2 separate regions of the Homo sapiens genome follow, and region 2 is reported to be linked to region 1. Evidence: microRNA targets listed by miRTarBase, many of them from high-throughput screens and not tested one by one. Region 1 holds a microRNA gene; the other region holds the end of a gene's coding sequence.

Evidence for each region. Region 1 holds the annotated microRNA hsa-miR-4639-3p (UCACUCUCACCUUGCUUUGC, at 3,004-3,023, opposite strand). A microRNA usually pairs through its seed, bases 2 to 8, with sites in the 3' UTR of a target mRNA and lowers its output. Matches are read on the target gene's strand: a 7mer-m8 pairs with bases 2 to 8, a 7mer-A1 pairs with bases 2 to 7 and ends in A, and an 8mer does both.
Region 2: the mRNA of SLC35B4 is a reported target of hsa-miR-4639-3p. Seed matches in the 3' UTR shown: 7mer-A1 at 1,835-1,841.

The regions. Positions count from the first base shown.
Region 1 is chr6:16,140,223-16,144,625 of GRCh38, reverse strand. MIR4639 (microRNA 4639) reads right to left here and starts at 3,070; the gene lies at 3,002-3,070. MYLIP (myosin regulatory light chain interacting protein) reads right to left here. Exons shown (of 7, transcript NM_013262.4): 3 at 2,816-3,001; 4 at 1,409-1,606; 5 at 763-927.
Region 2 is chr7:134,291,319-134,295,662 of GRCh38, reverse strand. SLC35B4 (solute carrier family 35 member B4) reads left to right here. Exons shown (of 10, transcript NM_032826.5): 10 at 584-4,344. The coding sequence ends at 830. Among named protein-coding and RNA genes, the nearest start is that of SLC35B4, 23 kb to the left of the region's middle. RefSeq lists a silencer at 2,366-2,425.

The DNA.
Region 1 (4,403 bases):
GAAGTTGCTTATGGAAGAAAAAGGGCATCTGCCTGAAGTCTTGGCTTTTAGGTTAGAAATGTCTAAAAATTTCCCATCCTGTTTCACAATTTGTGTATCTATTTTAAAATAAAAAAGTTTAAAGTTGTCTACGACTTAAATTTCTTAGCTTTAATTGTCCAAATACGTGAGTCCAATCACAACTTGGCTTTAAAGTACCCTCTGAAATGAGGGAATCAATATTGCTATTAAAAAATCCTTCCATACACAGTGACGACTCAGGATAGCAGCTCTGCCAGAAAGAAAAGATGATCTGTGCTATCCTTCTCCTGAGCAGTGGAGCAGGCCCAGTCCCTCAGGGTTACCTTTAGGGTAATCAAACTTGGCTTTGAAGCTGAGTCCTAGACTAAGTAAATAATTATCCTCCCAGTTCCCTCATCTTTAACATTAGGGTAATAATAACCCCTTAGGGTTGTTGTATTGATTAAATAGGCATAGAAATCTCCTAACACACTTTGTGTCTAGATTAATGGCATAAGAGAATACGGTAGGAGGTAAGCAGAGAATGTGTTTGTGCAGCTCACACACATGCACCTTCTGTGGGTAAAACAAGACTACATTAATAAGGACTCCACTGCTACTACGGAAACAAAATGTTCAGAATTTCTTAAATTCTGTACTAGACTCATTGACACAACAATCCAAGGAACCGTAGAAACCTGGTTGTCACCTAAAAACCTGAGAGCTGTGGTGCTGAGGTGACCAAGCACACGAGATACGTGCCTGTAGAATGCGTGCGTCTCTGTTATCGCTCGGTAGAGCCCGCTGGCCGCCCTGGTGCTGATCATTTTAAACAAGAGCACGATGCTGTTCCCAGATTCCTTGGTGACCGTCAAATATACATTCTTTCCTGACTGGGTGGCCATCTGCACCACAGGATAAGCTATCCTAAGAGACAGGAAGAGAAAAGAAAGCAGATCTAGAAGGAGTGATTCTTCACCATGTGTGTGCCTTTGTGGGATCCCCATTTGCTCATGACCTAGCAGAAAAATCAGACGCTTCCTCTGGGGTTATCACATCACCATAATGCTGCCTTATTGTAAAGATACAGTGAAAAGCAGTTGGGCATATGTGGAGGGAAGTATGGGAGCAAGTGCTGGGTGTGCGCACATGCATGTCTAGAGCTGAAAACAAGTTTTTTATGGCAGTGAATGGGTTATTTGGAAAACGTTAACTCTGCCACATTGTATACCTTGAATAACATTTAAAATGGTTATTTAGGCCTGAATAAAATTAATGTACATACCAAAATGAAATCTTTCATTCCTAAGAGCTGACTGTCGAGTAAATCCCTTCCTATTTTCTATTACATTGACAGCTACAGATGTATACACATGCTTAGGTCAAAAAAAGTTAAGTCTTGGCTTACCTATTAATTGGGCTAAAGTCATCTTTACAAATTGAGATTCCTTCAGGTCCAACCCCAATGAGCAGTTTCTGCCCTTCGCTATCCCGCACAGAATGCCATTCTATGCCATAGTTTTCCATTGCCGACACAATCTGCAAAACTTGGTATTCAGCTGAAGCCTGGCTGGTCCCCTCCAACTCCTTATGTTTTGCAACAATGCTGGAGGACACCAAGAGGACAGAGAATTAAGTATACAGATATTAGCTTTAGAGATAAACCTATGTAGTCTTCACGAGTGAAATATACTAACACTGATGAATCACAACAACTTAAAACTTATGTATTACTGATGTTTCATGTATTTAGCGAACTTACTATAAAAAACGTCTAAGACACTGGGATCTCAACTATTAAATACTTGGTAAAAACACTTTGGGGATGCTGGATGGGTGATGAATTGGAAGAATTATGGAAAGTCTCTAAAAATATACATAAGTCAAATTTACATATTGGAAAGTCTCATGCATTTGTCCACATATAGTTTATAAGTATAAAGTTGACCCCTGAGGCCCCTGTGGCCAGGGAAGGAGGTAGGCCAACAAACCACAGGAGTCAACCTGGCATGGAGGCCACCCTCAGTCGAGCCTTCAGATGAGACAGAGTTCTACCTGCAGCTTGACTACAGTCTCATGAGCCAGAGGACCCAGCCAAGACATGGCCAGATTCCTGACCTACAGAACTGTGAGACAATTTTTGTTGTTTTATGTCACTAAGTTTTGGGGTAACTTGTTATGCAGGAATAGATAACTAAAATGCCTATGTTAGATCTCCTGGTTTAATTCTTGCTGGGATGAAGAAAACACCAATATACATAATAGATTTTTTATTTTAGGAGATTTGTACTTAAAGGCACAGATTTAAAAAATTCCCATTTTATATAGCATTTCATATTGTGTTTACATATTTTTCAAATAAAAGGCTAACAAATTTTTTGAAAATATTTGGTTAAATTGGGCAATGGCCCAGTCTTAACTTCACAAATTATGTGTATGTACCACAGATTCATCTTCTTTTGGAAATGCTTATACATTTGATAGCTCTATGAATATATGCAGTAGCCCTGATGCTGCCATGTTCATGCTCTGGTGTCTCTGGTCTTGCTGCTCCCTCTGTCCTGATGGCCATTCTTTCTGTCCCCTTGCTTGGATACCCTTTGGTCTGTATCACATGCAAATCCTCTATTCCTCTGGTACAGTATTTGACATAACATGTATATTATGTATGACTTCTTAAGTGCCTCGAACATCAGAGAGCTCAAAAATGTACATAAAACTGCATATTATGTGTGATTAGTTTACCTTCCAACCTTAGTTTCATCCTGTTTAAGCCTATTCTAGTTGTAAACAATACTATATTCAACAGCCTCACCTGTTCAAGGTGGCAGAGGAGAGCTCCTTGGCACAGAGCTCCTCATAGTTATACTTGGCAGTGTTCTGGTTGTAGTCTCCAAACTTGGTCTGGGCCAGGAGGGCACTGAGTTCCACTGCCTGCTCTGGGGAACACAAGAGGTGGCCTGCCAAGAGGGCCTCCTTGATGTGCAAGAAAAAGATATGCCTGCAAAGCAAGGTGAGAGTGAGGTTATGCTTGGGGATAACCTGACATCAATCTCAGCCTACTTAGCAATTTCACAGTCACTTTTAAGGAAAGCAATTTTAAAAGTCACACTGAAAATGCTTAACATTAAAGAACTTCAAAAAAAAATCATCAGTATTAAGGCAAAATCAAAATAAGAACTGCGTTTCTCTGGAATAAAAGTTGTGACCCAAACAAGATAAACTTATTTAACACAAGTTCGGTAACATTAAGGTTACAAAACATAAAATAATTACACATAAGTTTCTGCATTATAGTGTTTTAAAAGAAATTATTTTAATCAGAAAAATTGTATCTTGACATGGATTCTGATAGAATCTTAAGGAACTCTATACATAAAGACAAAATTCTCACCTTTATTCAAATGATACCCCAATCTCTAGTCTCAGTGCCAGCTTCTGTCCTAAGAATCACATGAAAAATGTCCAATCTCCTATAGGCTTCACCACCTGGATGTTCTTCGGTACCTCAATTTTGGCTCATTCAAAACCAAACTCCATATATTCTTTCCCAAGCCCTTTTTCTCCGAATGGAGACCACGGACTGACTTTGGACTCTTTGTCCTATTTCACTTGACTTTCTTCTCTCTGAAAACTATTTAAATCCAGTTCTATCCTCCCATTTGTACCTCCTCAATACTACTTGCAGGAAGAATTTACACTATTCTCTGCGCTGCTCTCCTCCTCCAGACTCCATGCAGGCAGCCTACCTTCCATGCTGCTTGTTTCTAGTATAAACTTGTCATTTCTCTGCTCAAAATCCTTCAAAGGATCTGTACGGCTTGCCAAGGGAGCACGTTGTTAACGTGGAGCTGAGGAGTCTCCGCCATCTGGCCCCAGCTTTCCAGCCACGTCTCCTGTCATTCCCTGCAGCTGCTATGCCCCAGGATAGGGAACGATTCCTCTCCCTGGGAAATCTAGGAAGCATGTTCATGCTCTGGTGTCTCTGGTCTTGCTGCTCCCTCTGTCCTGAGGGCCATTCTTTCTGTCGCCTTGCTTGGATACCCTTTGGTCTGTATCACATGCAAATCCTCTATTCCTCTGGTACAGTATTTGACATAACATGTATATTATGTATGACTTCTTAAGTGCCTCGAACATCAGAGAGCTCCAAAAATGTACATAAAACTGCATATTATGTGTGATTAGTTTACCTTCCAACCTTAGTTTCATCCTGTTTAAGCCCATCCTAGTTGTATACAATACTATATTCTACATTTACTAAAAGGTTATGTCACACTTAAAAACTCCTGTAAAATTCAGATACTGGTCACACTGCCCAAAACTCTGAAGAGCACCTAAACTGCTGTAGACAGATTGGCCTCAGTTATAACAAGTGTCCCTGGCAAATGTGAAGTTTTAAC
Region 2 (4,344 bases), not on the chromosome of region 1:
AGTGAGCTTGATCACTCCACTGCACTCTAGCTTGAGTAACAGAACAAGACCCTGTCTCAAAAAAAAAAAGAAATTTCAAAGTAATCAAGTTTTCGTTTTTTAAAATGGTTATTTCGAATGACCTTACTTTCATTATAAAAATAATTATGTCTTTGAAATAGTGAAACGAATCGAGATTGACCTCATTCCTCTGAAGTCAGCTCCTAGATTTGCCAGAGTCCCTTTCTGGAGGAGGGGATAGAAGGGCTGGAGGCAAGATAAATAAAGGTGAATGGGATCACCCTTACCGAGAGCGTCACCCTCTGTCATTATCTTGGAGGTGCCTGTCATTGTAACCATAGGAAGACTCCAACATAAGAATAATTGGGGGTTTTTTGGCGGTTTCAAATTGGTACCCATAAATGGAATGGCAGGACAGGAGTTGTTCTGCAGGTTCTCCCCAGGAGGAGCCTCAGAGCTGCCGTAGCGGACCTTCATGTTTTCTTAGAATATGAGAAGTTAAACCAGGGACCATGCCAGAAGGTTCTCTCACTGATCCCCCAAGTACAGTCTACAGAAAACTACCTTGACTCCACTCCTCCAGGTACGTGTGCATCCGGGGTGTGTTTATCCTCACCACAGAATGCGCCTCCCTCACCGTCACGCTCGTCGTGACCCTACGCAAATTTGTGAGCCTCATCTTTTCCATCTTGTACTTCCAGAACCCCTTCACCCTGTGGCACTGGCTGGGCACCTTGTTTGTCTTCATTGGGACCTTAATGTACACAGAGGTGTGGAACAACCTAGGGACCACAAAAAGTGAGCCTCAGAAGGACAGCAAGAAGAACTGAGGCCTGTCTGGAGTACGTAGACCAGTGTCGTCGTGAGGGTGGGACCCTGTGAAGGTCTGACCACCGTTTCGCTTTTGTTAATGCCGAGCTACCCGCAGTGCTGAGCCAGCCGTGCAAAAGGAAATCTTCAGGAGGGGACTTCTCACGTTGCTCAGACTGACACATGTAGACTAAATAGAAACCCCTCAGCCCTAAAATAGAAAAAAGAACAGTTCTGGACTATTGAACAGCCCATTCATTTATTTCTGTTTTGTTTACCGACATATTCAGTATTATTCTTGTTTTCTGAATTCTGAGTCTCCTGAACAAAAGGCTTACTATCCATGGTCTTGGAAAAGATTGTCCCTTCTCTTGCTGTTGTAATGCATCTCTGCTACAGCAGTCATTGTCATCCTGTGACCTTATCCCTTTTGTCTCCCATCACCTTTTCCTTCTTCAGCAGCACCTCACAGTCAGTCAGACGCTGCAGGCACCACTATCACCAGGAGTGGCCAAGTAAACCGAGACACCAGTAACAGCAGGGCTGGACTTCCTCCAGCGTTTTGGGAAGGAAAGAGATGTTCCCCTGAGCTGATTCCCAGTGACAGTGCAGCAAGACTAGTGGGACTCCTCTTTCCCACATTTTGCTTTTTTTTTTTTCTATGCAAAAGTCAGATGCTTCTATCCATTGCTTTCTGTGATTAGGGCGGCCCTGCAGCATATCTCACAGCAGACACAGTGTTCATAACAAAGAAAGGTTGTGCCGGGCACGGTGGCTCACACCTGTAATCCCAGCCCTTTGGGAGGCTGAGGTGGGTGTATCACTTGAGGTCAGGAGTTCAAGACCAATCTGGCCAACATGGTGAAACCCCATCTCTACTAAAAATACGAAAATTAGCTGGGTGTGATGGCGCATGCCTGTAATCCCAGCTACTTGGGAGGCTGAGGCAGGAGAATCACTTGAACCCGGGAGATGAAGGTTGCAGTGAGCTGAGGTCGTGCTACTGCACTCCCGCCTGGGTGACAGAGTGAGACTCTATCTCAAAAAAAAAAAAAAAAAAGAAAGGTTGTTATGGACTGGACACCCCTGAAGCCCATTGCCTAGGCCACAGTGGTGACGGCAGGATGGCCCTGCTCAGCACCGCAAGAGCCATGGCTGTCCCTGTTGGCCCAGCCGGGCACTCACAGGGCAGAAGGGTGGGTCTCAAGTGGGAGGATAAGGCTTCACCACCAGGAGATTCCCCTCTGCCCGATGACTCTGTTAAGAGTCACGACCCATCAAGGGAATGCATAGATGGAGATATATAGTGTGTGATGTGTAAATCAGGTCAAACCTCAACGACAATTGAAAGTTGTTATTGTCCTATGAGGTATCTTAGCATTCTCGATGGGTATTGAGGATGGTTGGATGTGCTTTATTGTGTGTGGAAACATGCCTCTCTTTGCTAATCATTTCAGAGGTCCAGTTTTCCTTTCACTGGACAATCTTGAATAGGAGGAACGCTGTTGCTGTAATATGCGTAGCTTCTGTGTGCTCTTGTGTAGTCTGTGTGTGATCAAAGGGCACGGAAGTGGCTGCACTTTCACATCCCTTTTCTTTACTTAGCTGGAACCTTACATACCAGTACATGCTCCTCTGTAAGCAGCTGAACTCACCGGCCACTTCTCTGTTTGCCTATAGACAAAGACTGTGTGTGTGTGTGTGTATGTATGTGTGTGTGTGTGGTGCACACATTGTGTTCTTAAACTGAGACGTGGCTCTGCAGGTCTCCTGGGCTCATTCCATGGTGTGGTATGTTTATTCCACTGTCCAGAGCTATTCTCTGATGGATTTGAGCAACAGCAGTGGAGATAAATGTCCTAGAGTCACCAGGTCGCTTGGAGAAGTCATTTAAGCTGCCTCGGGTTTTTGTTACTTAAAATGTGGATATTATTTCTCCACCTAAATCACTGAGTTTACAGAGTAATAATGTGTTGCTCTGGACATTGACAGCTTTCTAGAGCCAGTAATGGGCTCTTCTGAAGGATGCTGAATTAGAAGTGAACCTATTCATAGGATCAAAAGCCACTTGCTTTGAAATATGTAGAGTTCCTCAGAATTGACGGTGCTAGAAATATCCAAGTGTTAAATAACCTTTTAAAAGCAACAAAAGCTACTTTTTTCTTACCACTTAATAGAAGAACCTGTCCCTAGAGGCGACTTCATTGCTATGGATCTGGAGTCTCTGAACTCTTAATAGGATGCAGCCTCACATACATAATGTCACCCATTTTATGTTGATGAAAACATTACAAGTTTTCTTCATTGGGTATGTGTTGATGTTCACAGACAGTACTTGGGCCCATTAGGTTTTCGCGTCTGGTCTTAGAGCATGTGTATTCATCTCAGCGTGAATACCTCAGCCAGTCTTATGAATAGGAGGCTATGTATGGGCAGGGAATAGATTAGATTAGAACACTCGCACAAGATGACCACATATAGAAGCAGAAAGCCCCAAATTCCCTGGGAACTGTTTTTTCTCTAGTAGCTGAATATAAGGAAATATGTCTAATGGACACCAGTTAATACTTTTTAAAACTACTCTTTAAAAAAAAAATACGTTCCCCTTGGTTAACTGATTTTTTAATCCAGGGTGGACATTTTTTCAACCTTTATTAAAAAGACAAATAAACTATTTTGTAGAAGATCAGACTCCTACTTAACTGGAAGAGAAATGTCTATTAAATGTCTCTCCTCTTTCTCTGGGTCAAGACCATGTAATTTTATGCTTCAGAGATGAAGATACTGTTTGTTTACAAAGAGTTTAGTTTTTAAGACATCCAAAACTCTATGCTAGAGCAAAAATCAAATAGCAAAGGACACTAGCCAGAAAATACAGTGTGTGTGTGTGCACCTGTGTGCCTGCTGAACAACTTGACAGTGTAACAGATAAGGTAACTGAAGATGGTGGATATTTGAATTGTATTAGCTTAATGTCTACATATCTTTGGCCAAAACTCTATTGTCATATTAGAAACATGTTATCTTTTTCATGTTTATTAGTAATTTATTTTTGATTCTTTGTTTTCTTTTTCGTCCAACTAAAACAACTGTAATGTACTTGATACATTTATATCAAGTTCTAAAGTATTTAGACAAATCCAAATACTTTGTTTTTAGTTTTTTCCTCCTTTCCATCCTGTTAACCACAGTGAAACGCTGCAGTATTTTGATTTGGTCAGTGCTACGGAGGAAGACCATGAAAGCTGAATTGGTCTGTGCCACCCAGAGTAAACCTCTTCTCTTCTTCTGGAAAGATGGCGTGATGTTTTTCAAGGATTCTAATAAATATCCCGCAGTCATCTCCTGAGCAGCTTTCCTCTGTTTCACTTCAGAACTCCTTCCCCCACTTTCTTCACTCCAGTTTCTTCACTTGCAGCGTTTTCTGCTAAGAAAGACTTATCATCTTGTATCTGTTTATGCCTCTCTTCTTTGGGGCCCCTGGATGTTTTTGTGGATTTTTACAGAGTATTTATATCTGCACAGCGTGTATTT